Homo sapiens: one gene and its partner. The protein of the gene in region 1 purifies or fractionates together with the protein of each later gene. This does not show direct contact. Each region holds a gene or a part of one and is shown on either strand. Other genes may lie near its edges.

Evidence for each region. The genes of interacting proteins can lie anywhere in the genome.
Region 2: the proteins of DNAAF10 (region 1) and CCT3 purify together in Homo sapiens (affinity purification with mass spectrometry; 4 studies listed by BioGRID and IntAct, with this or other methods). This does not show direct contact.

The regions. Positions count from the first base shown.
Region 1 is NC_000002.12:68,154,334-68,161,598, forward strand, and holds the start of DNAAF10 (dynein axonemal assembly factor 10), read right to left. Parts: upstream 3,195-7,265; 5' UTR 3,111-3,194; coding exon 2,928-3,110; intron 1-2,927. Other genes in the region: RNA-binding protein PNO1, read left to right, coding at 3,602-3,808, 4,047-4,196. UniProt on the Homo sapiens protein: Key assembly factor specifically required for the stability of axonemal dynein heavy chains in cytoplasm.
Region 2 is NC_000001.11:156,314,293-156,321,292, reverse strand, and holds part of CCT3 (T-complex protein 1 subunit gamma), read left to right. Parts: intron 1-267; coding exon 268-454; intron 455-2,275; coding exon 2,276-2,425; intron 2,426-3,745; coding exon 3,746-3,878; intron 3,879-4,045; coding exon 4,046-4,127; intron 4,128-7,000. UniProt on the Homo sapiens protein: Component of the chaperonin-containing T-complex (TRiC), a molecular chaperone complex that assists the folding of actin, tubulin and other proteins upon ATP hydrolysis.

The DNA of each region.
Region 1 (7,265 bases):
CCTCCCAGGTTGAAGCCATTCTCCTGCCTCAGCCTCCTGAGTAGCTGGGACTACAGGCGCCCGCCACCACGCCCGGCTGATTTTTTGTATTTTTAGTAGAGACGGGGTTTCACCGTGTTAGCCAGGATGATCTCGATCTCCTGACCTCATGATCCACCCGCCTCGGCCTCCCAAAGTGCTGGGATTACAGGCGTGAGCCACCACACCCGGCGTGAAAATACACTTAGTGGTTATTCCTGGCATTGAGATTATGGGTGATATTTTCTTCGTTTTCCTATTTTCTAAATGTTCTATCGTGGACACATATTATTTTTGCTACAAAAGAAAATTATCTTTTTAAAATTTGCTGAAATTCCCCAGAGTCGCTACAAAAGACAAACTACTCTATTCCACTTGATGGAGTAAGTGTACTTTTGAAATACATACAAATCATATATTTTCATTTTATTATTTTTTGAGACAGGGTCTCTCTGTCACCCAGGATGGAGTGCAGTGGTGCGAACACAGCATCCTTGACCTCCTGGGCTCAAGAGATCCTCCCACCACAGCCTCCCAAGTAGCTGGGACTACAGGCTCGCATCACTATGCCCAGCTAATTTTTGTATTTTTTTTATACAAAAAGTAGAGACGGGGTTTCCCCATGTTGCCTAGGCTGGTCTTGAACTCCTGGGCTCAAGCAATCCACCCCACTGCCTCCCAAAGTGTTGGAATTGCAGGCGTTAGCCACTGCACCAGGCCTGTTCTTATTTTAAAAAGTCACAGGTCTAAGCCCTGATCCTGCCACTGCACTCCATCGTAGGCAAGAGTGAGACCCTGTTTCAAAAAAAAAAAAAAAATTTCAATCATGTCCCATTTTTCTTCGAAAAAGGAATAAATGGCCAGGTGCAATGGCTCATGTCTGTAATCCCAGCACTTTGGGAGCCCAAGGCGGGTGGATCACCTAAGGTCAGGAGTTTGAGACCTGCCTGACCAACATGGTGAAACCCCATCTCTACTAAAAATACAAAAAAATTAGTTGGGCGTGGTAGCATGTGCCTGTAATTCCAGCTACTAGGGAGGCTGAGGCAGGAGAATCGCTTGAACCTGGGAGGCAGAGGTTGCAGTTAGCCAAGATCACGCCACTGCACTCAAGCTTGGGTGACAGAGCCAGACTCCGTCTCAAAAAAAAAAAAGAAAGAAAGAAAAGAAAAAGGAATAAATCCTTTAAATACCTTTTCTTTTTAATGGTGGCTCACACCTGATCCAGCACTTTGGGAGGGAGAGGCGGGAGGATGGTTTGAGCCCAGGAGTTCCAGGCTGCGATGAGCTATGACAGTAGCACTGCACTCCGGACTGGGACAGAGCTACGCCATCCCTAAACAACAACAACAAAAAACAAAAACAACCCAAAATGCAATGTAAAGAAATTTTACTTTGTGTAGAAATCAGGAAGGGCATCATACATTAGATAATCTGAACTGAACATTGGAATAGCAACAGGTAGCCAGGCTTGGTGGCTCACGCCTGTAATCCCAGTATTACGGGAGGCCGATGTAGGCAGACTGCTTGAGCCCAGGAGTTGGAGACCAGCCTAGGCAACACGGTGAAACCCCATCTCTACCAAAATAAAAAATAAAAAAATAAAAAGTACAAAAAAATTAGTTAGGTGTGGTGGCACACACCTGTAGTCCCAGCTACTTGGGAGGCTGAGGTGGGGAGGCGGAGGTTGCAGTGAGCTGTGTTTGCACCACAGCACTCCGGGCTGGGTGACAGATTGAGACCCTGTCTCAAAAAAAAAAAAAAAAAAAAAAAAGCCACTGGTTACCAGAAGCTAAGTGATGAACAATACAAGGAACGAAGGAAAGGTAGAAAAAAATAAGCCATGTTTCATGTTTGTCATTCAGGGAAACTTAAAGCGGGATGGGGTCTTACATACTTTCTATTCTAGGCTTAACAGTCCAAATTGTATTCATCCTTTATCTACCAGTTTAATCCCTACCTCCTCCAAGCAGATTCTCTCCATAGGTTTTGATCCCCAGAGTTAACCTACCCTGCACTTGTAGTCTATTACAACCCTGATCTGATAATGACTGATCATTTTTTCAGGTAACAAAATCAACACTTTTTAAAAACTATAAACAGCTATAAAATGCTAGTTACTATCATTATTCTCTAATTCTTTCACTAGTAATCTTCAAAAAAACCTTGCAAACCTAATCTTTCCACACCCTGCTTAAATCCTTTCAGTTGTGTCCGTTTTTTCTTAGAAAAAAGGCATAAATCCTTTGAATGTCCTACAGATCTTGCAATGTCTGGTTCCTGCTTATCCCTCTAGTTTCTTAAGGAGATAAACTTCTTCCCATCACTGAGCTTCTGCATGTGCAGAAGCCCTGGAAACCTTGTCCTTTACTCCTAGTTTGACCTAGTTAGCTTCTGCACATACCAAAATCTGTTTTCATTCATCCCAAATCTGTTTTCACTCTCATTGAACCGTAACCGTGTTCCTTTGTGTGAGACAACTCATCTCGGTTTGTATTTATGTATCGTTGCTTTGATTATTGAACTGAGTATCTCTCCCACTAGAAAATAAACTCCATGAGATGGGGGACATTACCATTCACATCCCTGGGAATACCAGGCACTCAGCTGATGCCTGTCGAATGTGTTAGGTTGCCTCTTCCAACCACACTGCAGGCATCCTGGTGCCCGCTTTGGCTGGACTGCACTGGGGGTGGCAGGACGGTTGGGCGCGGAGGAACTACCCCGCGGATGAGAAGAAAGGTTTTAAATAGGAAACATTCCTCAGTCGGCGGTCAGCTTCTCTGGTCTCGCGCGGCTCAAGCCATGCTTTGGGGGACGCTGGGCGAAGGCTCTGGCAAAGAGGAATGCAGACCCCAGGATCCGCACTCGCCCCCAACGGCAGTCCGGATCCTCGACCCGGCACCCACCTCCCGAAGCAGCTTCAGGTCCCCGTGCTGGATCTCGTACAGCTGAATGACGCCGGTGCCCCGTGCGAAGTTGCCCATGGTCACAAATTTGGCGCTGCAGGGCACCCACTTACAGTCAAACACCGTGTAGTTGAAGCCCTTCTGGATATGGGCGATGATCTGAGGCTTCTCGAAGGCCGACATGGTGCAGCCAATTTCAGCTACGGCAACCGCCACACCCAGAGCCCCCAAAAACGGCAACCTGGAAACCAGACTCCAAACATTGGCAATTTGTCCCTCCCGCTTTCCGTATTCTGCCCCAGATGCCCTGGCATGTTGGCTGTAGTTATCCCCGGATAATGCCAGATGCGCTCCTGCGATCGCACAGAATGTTCCTTCACAACAGCACGAATTTGTTTATCGCCTTTACCCACTGCCTTTCGCACACATACATACTAGAGATTACAAAATACTTGGGCTGGGAGTTGCGCGGCTGGAGTGAGCCCAAGACCATCAGGCATATCTTAGGACAGCCTAACCCCGTTTTCCCCCCCACCGGCCCCAAATCCTGCAGGTCCCCGGCCTGTGACGTTTTAGGAAAGGGGCGGAGCTGCAGGGGTGGTTGGCTGAGGCTGGCTTCTGCGTGGTGCAGCTGCGCACGTGTTTCAGCCGGCAGCGCTTTAAGATTTCCGGGGATGGAATCCGAAATGGAAACGCAGAGCGCCAGGGCAGAGGAGGGCTTTACCCAGGTCACCCGCAAGGGTGGCCGACGGGCGAAGAAACGACAGGCTGAACAGCTGTCCGCAGCAGGAGAGGGCGGGGATGCGGGCCGCATGGACACAGAGGAGGCCAGGCCGGCGAAGAGGCCCGTCTTCCCACCCCTCTGTGGGGACGGGCTCCTGGTATGTGGCTGGGACCCTAGGACAGCAACGAGGCAAGGGCCAGACGCGGATCAAGCCGATGGCCTCTGGAGAATGTTGAAGCTGCGGTGGGGCTGTTCTGCCGTGATGCTCAGAGAGAAGTGATTCTTTGAAGTGTAACTAGTTCAGTTAAAGGAGGCCCTTTGTGGATCAGATGTCATTTTAAACTCCATCACCGTCCCTCCATAGCCTTCTGAGTTGTGTGTTCTTTTATTTACAGAGTGGGAAAGAAGAAACAAGGAAAATTCCAGTCCCAGCTAACAGATACACACCATTGAAAGAAAACTGGATGAAGATATTTACTCCTATTGTGGAACATTTGGGACTTCAGATACGCTTTAACTTGAAATCAAGGAATGTAGAAATCAGGGTAAGGAAAATCTCAATCATTTCCCAATACACCAGGCTTTCTCTCCTACAGAGATGAAAAGGCATGAATAGGCTTTACTTAATGGGACTTTTCTGTTGTATGGTTTTTGTCCAGTTTAAAAATTTACCATATTGAGTTTGAACTTCCCAAATGCCTTAAAAATCTGCATTCGATACAAATATTAATTGAATTTGTAAATTAGTTCTGAGATCACACCAAAATACTGGCTCTTCTTCTGTGTATCTTTTATAATGTTCTATGTCAAATTGAGAAAAGGTCGAGTAAAGAGATTGCCATAAACAGAAGCAGGTAAATAATGAATATAAGCACTTGCTGCTTTACAAGAAGTATATACAGTCAGCGTCGGGAATATGTTCTGGGATATGTTTTGTCAGATGACTTAGTCCTTGTGCGAATATTATAGAGTGTACTTACACAAACCTAGATGGTATGTGTATATTTGTTTATATATTTTTTTCATATGGAAAACCAAATGTCCCAGCACCATTACTGAATATCAGTCATTTCATCTACTTGATCTGCATTGCCGGTATCCAGTGCCATATATCAGGTTTCTGTATATTCTCCATTATACTGTTATGAGACCACCATGGTATGAGCGGTTGGTCACTGATCAAAATGTCATTATGCAGTGCATGACTGTGTTTTAATGGTGCTCTTTTGATTAAAAAATGTATTATTTTGATAAGAAACATGCATATATATGTGTGTGTGTGTGTGTGTGTGTGTATATATATCTTTTTATTTTGCTCTTTCACCCAGGCTGGAGTGAGTGGCATGATCTTGGCTCACTGTTAACAGGTGCCTGCCACCAAACCTGGCTAATTTTTGTATTTTTAGTAGAGACTGGGTTTTAGCATGTTGGCCAGGCTAGTCTCGAACTCCTGACCTCAGGTGATCACATCTCGGCCTCCCAAAGTGCTGGGATTACAGGCGTGAGCTGCCCCACCGAGCCTATGTATATATTTTAAATTCTGTGCTATCAATCCGGGAATTAGACATTTAAATTTACTTTGGGCTTTCTTTTCTGGGTGCCAATTTCATACCAGAATCGATAACCGAAATTAATTATATTTTCCTTTTTAAGGATTCTTTTACCATCATCCGGACTGGTATAGTCTCATCTCTGTTAATGGAATATAATAATGGAACAAAGAAAGGCACTATTCTAAATAGTTGATAAAGTGTAAAATATCATAGAACATGATAGAGTAACTCCTCTTTGTCCCTGTTGCCATTCTCTCATTCAGGCTTTTATGGTTTCCTGCCAAGGAGTGGTTTCGTTGTAGGTTTCCCTTGCTTCATTGTTTGACGTCTCTCCTTTCTCCACTCATCCATCTGCCAGTGCCAGATTAAGTTTCCCAGATCACAATGCTTTTATGACATCCTGGCATCTTCAAAAAACAAAAAAAAATTTTTTTTTTTTTTTTTTTTTTGAGATAGAGTCTTGCTCCGTTGCCCAGGCTGGAGTGCAGTGTCGCAATCTCGGCTCACTGCAAGCTCCGCCTCCTGGATTCATGCCATTCTCCTGCCTCAGCCTCCTGAGTAGCTGGGACTACAGGCACCCACCACCACGCCCGGCTAATTTTTTGTATTTTTTAGTAGAGACAGGGTTTCACCGTGTTAGCCAGGATGGTCTTGATCTCCTGACCTCATGATCTACCCGCCTCTGCCTCCCAAAGTGCTGGGATTACAGGCGTGAGCATCTTCAACATTTCTAAAGGAAAAAGTTTTGGACTTAACTTGCTTTTCAAGTAGGAGACTCAGTCACAAGTTTGTCTCTCACGGATCATAAAGTTTGTTTATGTCCATACTTTTTGGTGGCTTTGGCCTTTGAAAGAGGTCCGCTCCTCCCTACTCCTTTCTCTTTATACTTCAGTTCCAGTATCTTTCCGGGTCTAGCTCAAGTTCTTTCTCTGTTATGGTATGTCCATTTTTCAGTCATATCTTCAGTGCCTAAACTTTTCATGTGCTTTATTGTCCTATTTATTGCAGGATAATCACTTTGGATTCCACTAACATTTGTTGATGCTGCCATATACCAGACACACAGTGGTATTACACCATGCTCTACATCATTTAGTCTTCAGGATATTCCCATCTTAAAGATGTGAGGAAACTTGGCCACAGTCATCAGTCTAATAAGGGAAATTTTCTATTATACTAGTAGGGAACACTCAGGATCTTCTACTCTGACCTCCTCATTTTACTGATGAGAAAACTCAAGACCTAAAGTATCTATGGGACTTGTCTAAGGTCACATATAGGATTGGAACTAGGGTCTAGTTTTAAATGGGAAAGCTCTGGGGACTCTCCCATTGCACAAGCCCATATGGTTTTACATTTGTTGAATACGTGGTCTCTTCAACTAGACTGTGAATGTGCATGGGACAGTGGAAATAACAGTTTTGAAATCAGACCTGTGTTTAAATCTTACCTTTTTTGCTTTTTAGTACTTTAGTTTCCTCACATACGAAGGTAGTCATATCACTTAACATTCAAAGTTGTTGTGAAGGTTAGAGTTATGGTGTGTAAAGCATGTTATTTATAGTACGTGTTATTTACAGTGGTAGGCTTTTTATGAATAACAGTTATTTCTGCATTTCTCAAATAAACTTTGAGGACAGGTTCAGTGCTTCATTCATTCTTTATTTCCCCAATCAGTGCATGCAGGTAGTTAGGCCTGGAGCTGTTGGTTTAAGAAACATCAGCATATAAATGATAACTAAGAAGATTAAGTCAGGAATCCCAGGGAAGACTGCCTTGAGAGAGAAGAGAAGAGGACATTGGGCATTGAAGGGATGGACAGAAGGTAGAGGTTCTTCAGAATGGGAGAGATTGGGTTGTGCCAGAGGAGTCTTGCTGTTAACCCCAAAATCTGATCATATAGTGCGGTTAGTTATTTGACACTCTTTGGGTGGAACAGCCAAGCTTTGGAGCTGGGAACGTTTTGTTTTGCAAATAAAGTACAGCACTTATCTGACCAGAACCTGTGTCATACAGAATATATTAGGGAAAGGTGGTGGTGAAGGAAATTCTCCAATAATG
Region 2 (7,000 bases), on another chromosome or scaffold:
CAAATTATTTTACTATAATCTTTGTATGTAAGTGTAAAGGGTTGCTCAGGGAATTAAGGCACCGTCTACAGATGAGTTGTAATCTTGCTGAAAGGCAGAGGAATGGACAAAGGTTACCTCCTAATGTCCTTTTAGTTTCCTCCAAAGGAACAAATCCCCTTGTTCTGCCTCTTGGTCCATTATTATAGTCACTGAGGTATAGATAAGGCACATCTCTACATATCTAACATGCCTTCTTCACATATCGTCTGGTTTTCTTTTCTCTAGTATCCCAGTCGACATCAGTGACAGTGATATGATGCTGAACATCATCAACAGCTCTATTACTACCAAAGCCATCAGTCGGTGGTCATCTTTGGCTTGCAACATTGCCCTGGATGCTGTCAAGATGGTACAGTTTGAGGAGAATGGTCGGAAAGAGATTGACATAAAAAAATATGCAAGAGTGGAAAAGGTAAACTTTCAAAGTGTATACATTGGGTCAAATTATATGTTAGCATGAGTCATCTCACTTGTGAGGAAATAGTCTGTTTTTCATGCCGTTGTTTTGTTTTGTTTTTGAGACAGAGTCTCACCTTGTTGCCTAGGCTGGAGTATAGTGGCACAGTCACAGCCCACTGCAGCCTCAAACTCCTGGCCTCAAGCAAATCCTCTGATTTGCTAGGACTACAGGCACATGCCACTGTGCCCAGCAAATTTTTTTTCTTTTTGTAGAGATGAGGGTCTCATGTTGCCCAGGCTGGTCTTGAACTCCTGGCCTCAAGTGATCTTCCCACCTCAGGCTCTCAAAGTGCTGGGATTATAGGCATAAGCCATCATACCCTACTTGAATGAAATAGTTTTAAATCAGAGCAAGGTATGTTTTTTGTTTGTTTGTTTTTTTGAGATGGAGTCTTGCTCTGTCGCGCAGAGGCTAGAGTGCAGTGGTGCGATCTCGGCTCACTGTAGCCTCCACCTCCCGGGTTCGAGTGATCTCCTGCCTCAGCCTTTAAAATAGTTGGGATTACAGATGCCTGCCACCACGCCCAGCTAATTTCTTTTTGTATTTTAAGTAGAGACGGGGTTTCACCATGTTAGCCAGGATGGTCTCGAACTCCTGACCTCAGTGATCTGCCCACCTTTGCCTCACAAAGTGCTGGGATTATAGGGTGAGCCACTGCGCCTGACCAAAGCAAGGTATCTTTAGTTAGAACTAGGAAGAACTATACTTGCTGCCTGGAAACAAAAACCTATAAGAGGCTACCAAGTAGGAATTTCTTCAAATAGTTTTGTTGTTACCTTCACTGCTATCCCTACACAAGGTTTATGAGGACAAGGGACAGGCTTATTGGTGTCTCCATGTTTGTGTATTTGCATACATCAGTCATTTGGTCAGGATATAAGCTTAACAAGGGCTCTATTATGTAGTGCTATTAAAATAGTAAGCCCCAGAAAGCTTTCTCTCCTGTCCACTAAATTTCATTAAGATCCAAAAGTTTAGTAGTATAGCTTGTGGCCAGTAGATGGAGCCCCAAGCCTAAAATTCTCTGGCAATATATTTATTTTTTTAATTGGAGAGACCTAAGCCCTTATTTATTTATTTAAATAGCAATTGGGTCTCAATGTGTTGCCCAGGCTGGTCTCGAACTCCCGGCCTCAAGGGATCCTCCTGCCTGAGCCTCTTGAGTAGCTGGGATTTTAGGTGTGAACCACTGTGCCTGGCTCATAAGCCCCTCTAAGTCTTTTGTCAAGTCATTGAATTTCAGTGAGTCTCAGCAGACCTTCAAGTTGAGTGTCATGGTCTAAAATTGGTGTATTTCCTAATGGGAAAAAAATGTGATTCCAATAATATTTTTGAGCTTCATCAAAGAAAGGTACTTTAGAAACCTGAAACACTGGGCCGGGCGTGGTGGCTCATGCCTGTAATCCCAGCACTTTGGGAGGCCGAGGCGGGCGGATCACGAGGTCAGGAGATCGAGACCATCCTGGCTAACATGGTGAAACCCCATCTCTAGTAAAATACAAAAAAAAAAATTAGCCGGGTGTGGTGGCGGGCGCCTGTAGTCCCAGCTACTTGGGAGTCTGAGGCAGGAGAATGGCGTGAACCCGGGAGGCGGAGCTTGCAGTGAGCCGAGATTGCACCACTGCACTCCAGCCTGAGCGACAGAGCGAGACTCCATCTCAAAAAAAAAAAAAAACCTGAAACACTAGCTGTTTGGGAAAGATGAACATCTGGGAAGGAAATTAAGAAATTGTCTCTTGATTGTGGATTAAAGTGCAGTTGTCTTTTGTTCAGATACCTGGAGGCATCATTGAAGACTCCTGTGTCTTGCGTGGAGTCATGATTAACAAGGATGTGACCCATCCACGTATGCGGCGCTATATCAAGAACCCTCGCATTGTGCTGCTGGATTCTTCTCTGGAATACAAGAAAGGAGAAAGCCAGGTAAGGTTCTTGGCCTTGTTCCTTAAAGTAGATGCAAGAATCTGACTGCAAATATGAACAACAGAAATAAAACGTATGTTTATTGCATGCCTTCTGGGTGCATAGTGTACACTGACTCTTAGAACAATCCTTTAGAATAGTTGGTATTGATTTCATTTTACAGATGAGGGATCTGAAGCTCAAACAAGTTAGGTTAATTGCTTGAGGAATACAGCTAGTATTGGCCAAAATCAAGATTTGAACCTGGTTGTGTTTGGCTTGTTTTATACGATCATGCTGCCTTTCCTAATGCACCAGGGGAACATAAGGTAGGAGTTAATTCAGCTTTGAAGTACTAAAGGAGAATTTCAGCTTAATGCAGTGGCTCACACCTATAATTCTAGCACTTTGGGAGGCTAAGGCAGGTGGATGGCTCGAGCCCAGGAGTTCAAGACCAGCCTAGGCAACATGTCGAATACTGTCTTTATTTAAAAAAAATTAATTGGGCGTGGTGGCATGTGCCTGTAGTCCCCACTACTTGGGAGGCTGAGGTGAGAGGATTGCTTGAACCCAGAAGGTCAAGGGTGCAAGGAGCTGTGATCACGCCACTGAACTCCAGCCTGAGCAACAGTGAGACCCTGTCTCAAAAAAAAAAAAAAAAAAATTCTAGAGGGCAGGAGGCTCACAAGGCTCCATCACATTTGGAAAGAATAAGAATCAATTAGTGGGAAGAATTAAGACCCAGGATTTTCCTGCACACTGCCAGGACAGATGTAGGATTGGACTGGGTGGTCAGAGACCTTAGAAAGGCCAAACTCAACACTAATTACTGTGTGACTTTCAGTTCTGGTTGTTTTATAATGATATAACTGGAGCTGGCCGGGCGTGGTGGCTCACGCCTGTAATCCCAGCACTTTGGGAGGCAGAGGCGGGCGGATCACGAAGTCAGAAGATCGAGACCATCCTGGCTAACGTGGTGAAACCCCGTCTCTACTAAAAATACAAAAAAAAAGTTAGCTGGGGGTGGTGGCAGGCACCTGTAGTCCCAGCTACTCGGGAGGCTGAGGCAGGAGAATCGCTTGAACCCAGGAGGCAGAGCTTGCAGTGAGCCAAGATCGCGCCATTACACTCCAGCCTGGGTGACAGAGCAAGATTCCGTCTCAAAAAAAAAAAAAAGCAAAACTAAAGCTAAATTGGCTTACAGAGGTGTTGAGGTCATGGCTTTAACATAATTCTGACTCTGAGATACGTGGGAGAGGTGGGTGGAAGGAGTATAATATGACCCTTAGAGCTTCACCAGTCCAGGGATTTTAAAATCAGTGTCTTTTCTTTACCACACAGACTGACATTGAGATTACACGAGAGGAGGACTTCACCCGAATTCTCCAGATGGAGGAAGAGTACATCCAGCAGCTCTGTGAGGACATTATCCAACTGAAGCCCGATGTGGTCATCACTGAAAAGGGCATCTCAGGTGGGACTTTGTTACTTTTTCCAGCCTACCTTTGAGGTAGACGAGGGTGGGTGATTTGTTTTCTCCCCTCATGTTTGGCAGGGGCGTAATAGTGTCATGGTTAAGAGTACTTTGATTATAAAACCAGTTCAGAACCCAGCTTGACATCTCTACTCTTGGATTTGTAGATTTAGCTCAGCACTACCTTATGCGGGCCAATATCACAGCCATCCGCAGAGTCCGGAAGACAGACAATAATCGCATTGCTAGGTGAGTAGGCCAGGTAAAAACAAGACTTTTCTTCCCGTGTGTTTCCTTTTTGTAGTTGCGTAACAGTCATCATTACCTGAAAAGGTTTAATAAAGGATATAGTAACAGGTAGAAATAACCTTGGCTTAGCTGCCTGCCCTCTTCAGAAGTCCTCTAGTCCAACAGTTATTTACTGCGTGAGTCTCATCTGTACTGCCCCTAACCATTAGTGAGCAGCTTGTGCTTAGACATTTGTAATTGCTACCTTGGTGGGTGTCCGTTACATTTCTAAATAACTGCCTATCTAAGAGGTTTTCTTTAATGTCATTATGATGATTTTTGAATGAACATTTCCAGAGTATCCTAAGTGGCCTGGATTATAGCAGAACCATCAGTTTCCTCAGCTACATCCTTAGCTGCGATTTATGCGATTCTAGATTGCATTCACTACTTCTGCACTGATGTCTGTGCTCATAGACCATTCTTTTTAATAGACAAGGTCTTGCTGTGTTACCTAGGCCTGTCTCAAACTCCTGGGCTCAAGCAGTCATCCTGTTGTCAGCCTTTCCAGTACCTGAAACTATTGGCATGCGCCACCATGCCCAGCAAAGTTCATTCATTTTTAATTTATCAAAAAGCTGACAAATCTACCCCAACATAATATATCACAGATCCAAATCATATTTTATACTTTTATACCCCAAAGGGTATTAACATGCATACACATAGTTGACTTCACATGGCCATGAGTTGGAGGGAGTGACAAGCAATTAGTCCTACATTCATTAAACTTCGGTCAGACGTATGCAGTCATCCCTTGATATCCACAGGGCATTGGTTCTAGGATCCCCGCCCCCTTGAATACTAAAGTTTGTGGATGCTTAACCCTTATATAAAATGGTATGGTATTTGTGTATAACCTATACACATCCTTCTATACACTTTAAATCACCTTTAGATTGCTTATAATGCCTAATATAGCATAAATGCTATATAAATAGTTGCTATACTATATTGTCTTTAAAATTTATATTATTTTTTGCCGTTGTATTATTGTCCATCCCCCCACCCCACCCCCCCTGCCATGTTATCAGTGCATGGTTGGTGGAATCTGGATGCGGGACCTGCGGATATAGAGGGCCAACTCTACTTACATGTTTATTCGCCTTCCTCCTTGCTTGACCTTTGCATCTTTGGTACAGTCTTTATTATTCGCCTGGAGACTCAACTGGGCAGTACAGGATGGGTTATATCTAGAAGTTACCATTATATAGTATAGACATGTTAATTTTTTTCTTTTATCTTTCTTTTTTGCAGGTTCTAATTCTCTAGTTGAAATATGTACATGTTAGATATGCATGAGAACTAATTTGTCCAGATTTTAGTAACCACAAAGTATATTTTGAATTCAACTATATCTGGTTATAGTAGTGATGACTAGTTGCCTTAAGTGTACAGTTGACCCTTGAACAACTTGGGGGTTAGGGGAATCAGTCCCCAAGGAGTTGAAAATCCATGTATAATTTTTTGACTCCCCCACTCCTAATAGCTGACCGTTGACCCGAACCCTTACCAATAACACAATTAACTATCACATATTTTGTATATCATATGTGTTATATACTGTATTCCCTTAAATAAAGTAAGCTAGAGAAAATGTTATTAAGAAAATCATAAGGGCAGGGCACGGTGGCTCATGCCTGTAATCCCAGCACTTTGGGAGGCCAAGGCAGGTGGATCACCTGAGGTGAGGAGTTCAAGACCAGCCTGGCCAACATGGTGAAACCCCATCTCTAATAATAATACAAAAATTAGCTAGGTGTGGTGGTGCATGCCTGTAATCCCAGCTACTCGGGAGGCTGAGGCAGGAGAATTGCTTGAACCAAGGAGGCGGAGGTTGCAGTAAGCTGAGATGGTGCCATTGCACTCCAACCTGGGCGACAAGAGTGAAAGTCCGTCTCCAAAAAAAGAAAATCATAAGGAAGAGATAACACATTTACTATGCCTTAAGTGGAAGTAGATCATCAAAAAGGTCATCATCATCTTCATGTTGAATAGGCTGTGGAGGAAGAACGGGCTGGTCTTTCTGTCTTGGGTGTCAGAGGCAGAAGAGTGGTAGAAGGGGAGGCAGGATGGGCAGGAGGCACACTCAGTGTAACTCAATGGAAATACATCGTGATTTGTCTGACTTCTGCTTTTTTGTTTCTCTAAAAATATTTCTGTATAGTACCAGTCCCTCTTCCACTGCTTCAGTTTCAGTGCCTCTATCATAGAAGGGTCCATATCATAAAAGAAGTCAAAAGCAGTCTTGAATAATCAGAAGCCTTCTGCCAGATTGTCTAATGTCAGTTTGTTTTCTGGCACTGCTGCTTCTACATCATCTTCCTCATCGTCTGGCACTGCTTTGGAAGCAGTCGTCTCCATCAAGTCATCTTCTGTTTGGTTTTTTTTGTTTTTATTTTTTATTTTTTTGAGATGGAGTTTCGCTCTTGTCGCCCACGCTGGAGTGCAGTGGCACAATCTTGGCTCACCACAACCTCCGCCTCCTGGGTTCAAACGATTCTCCTGTCTCAGCCTCCCGAGTAGCTGGGATTACAGGCGTGAGCCACCAAGCCCAGCTAATTTTGTATTTTTAGTAGAGACGGGGTTTCTCCATGTTGGTCAGGCTGGTCTTGAACTCCCGACCTCAGGTGATCCACCCACCTCAGCCTCCCAAAGTGCTGGGATTACAGGCGTGAGCCACTGCACCTGGCCTGTCATCTTGTGTTAATTCCTCTGATGTAATGTCTGTTAGCTCTTGAGTTTCTCCAAGATTCATATCTTGAAACCCTTCACCACCGCTATGCCAGTTTTTTTAGCCACATCCACAGTCTCTTTCATGATTTCCTTGATTG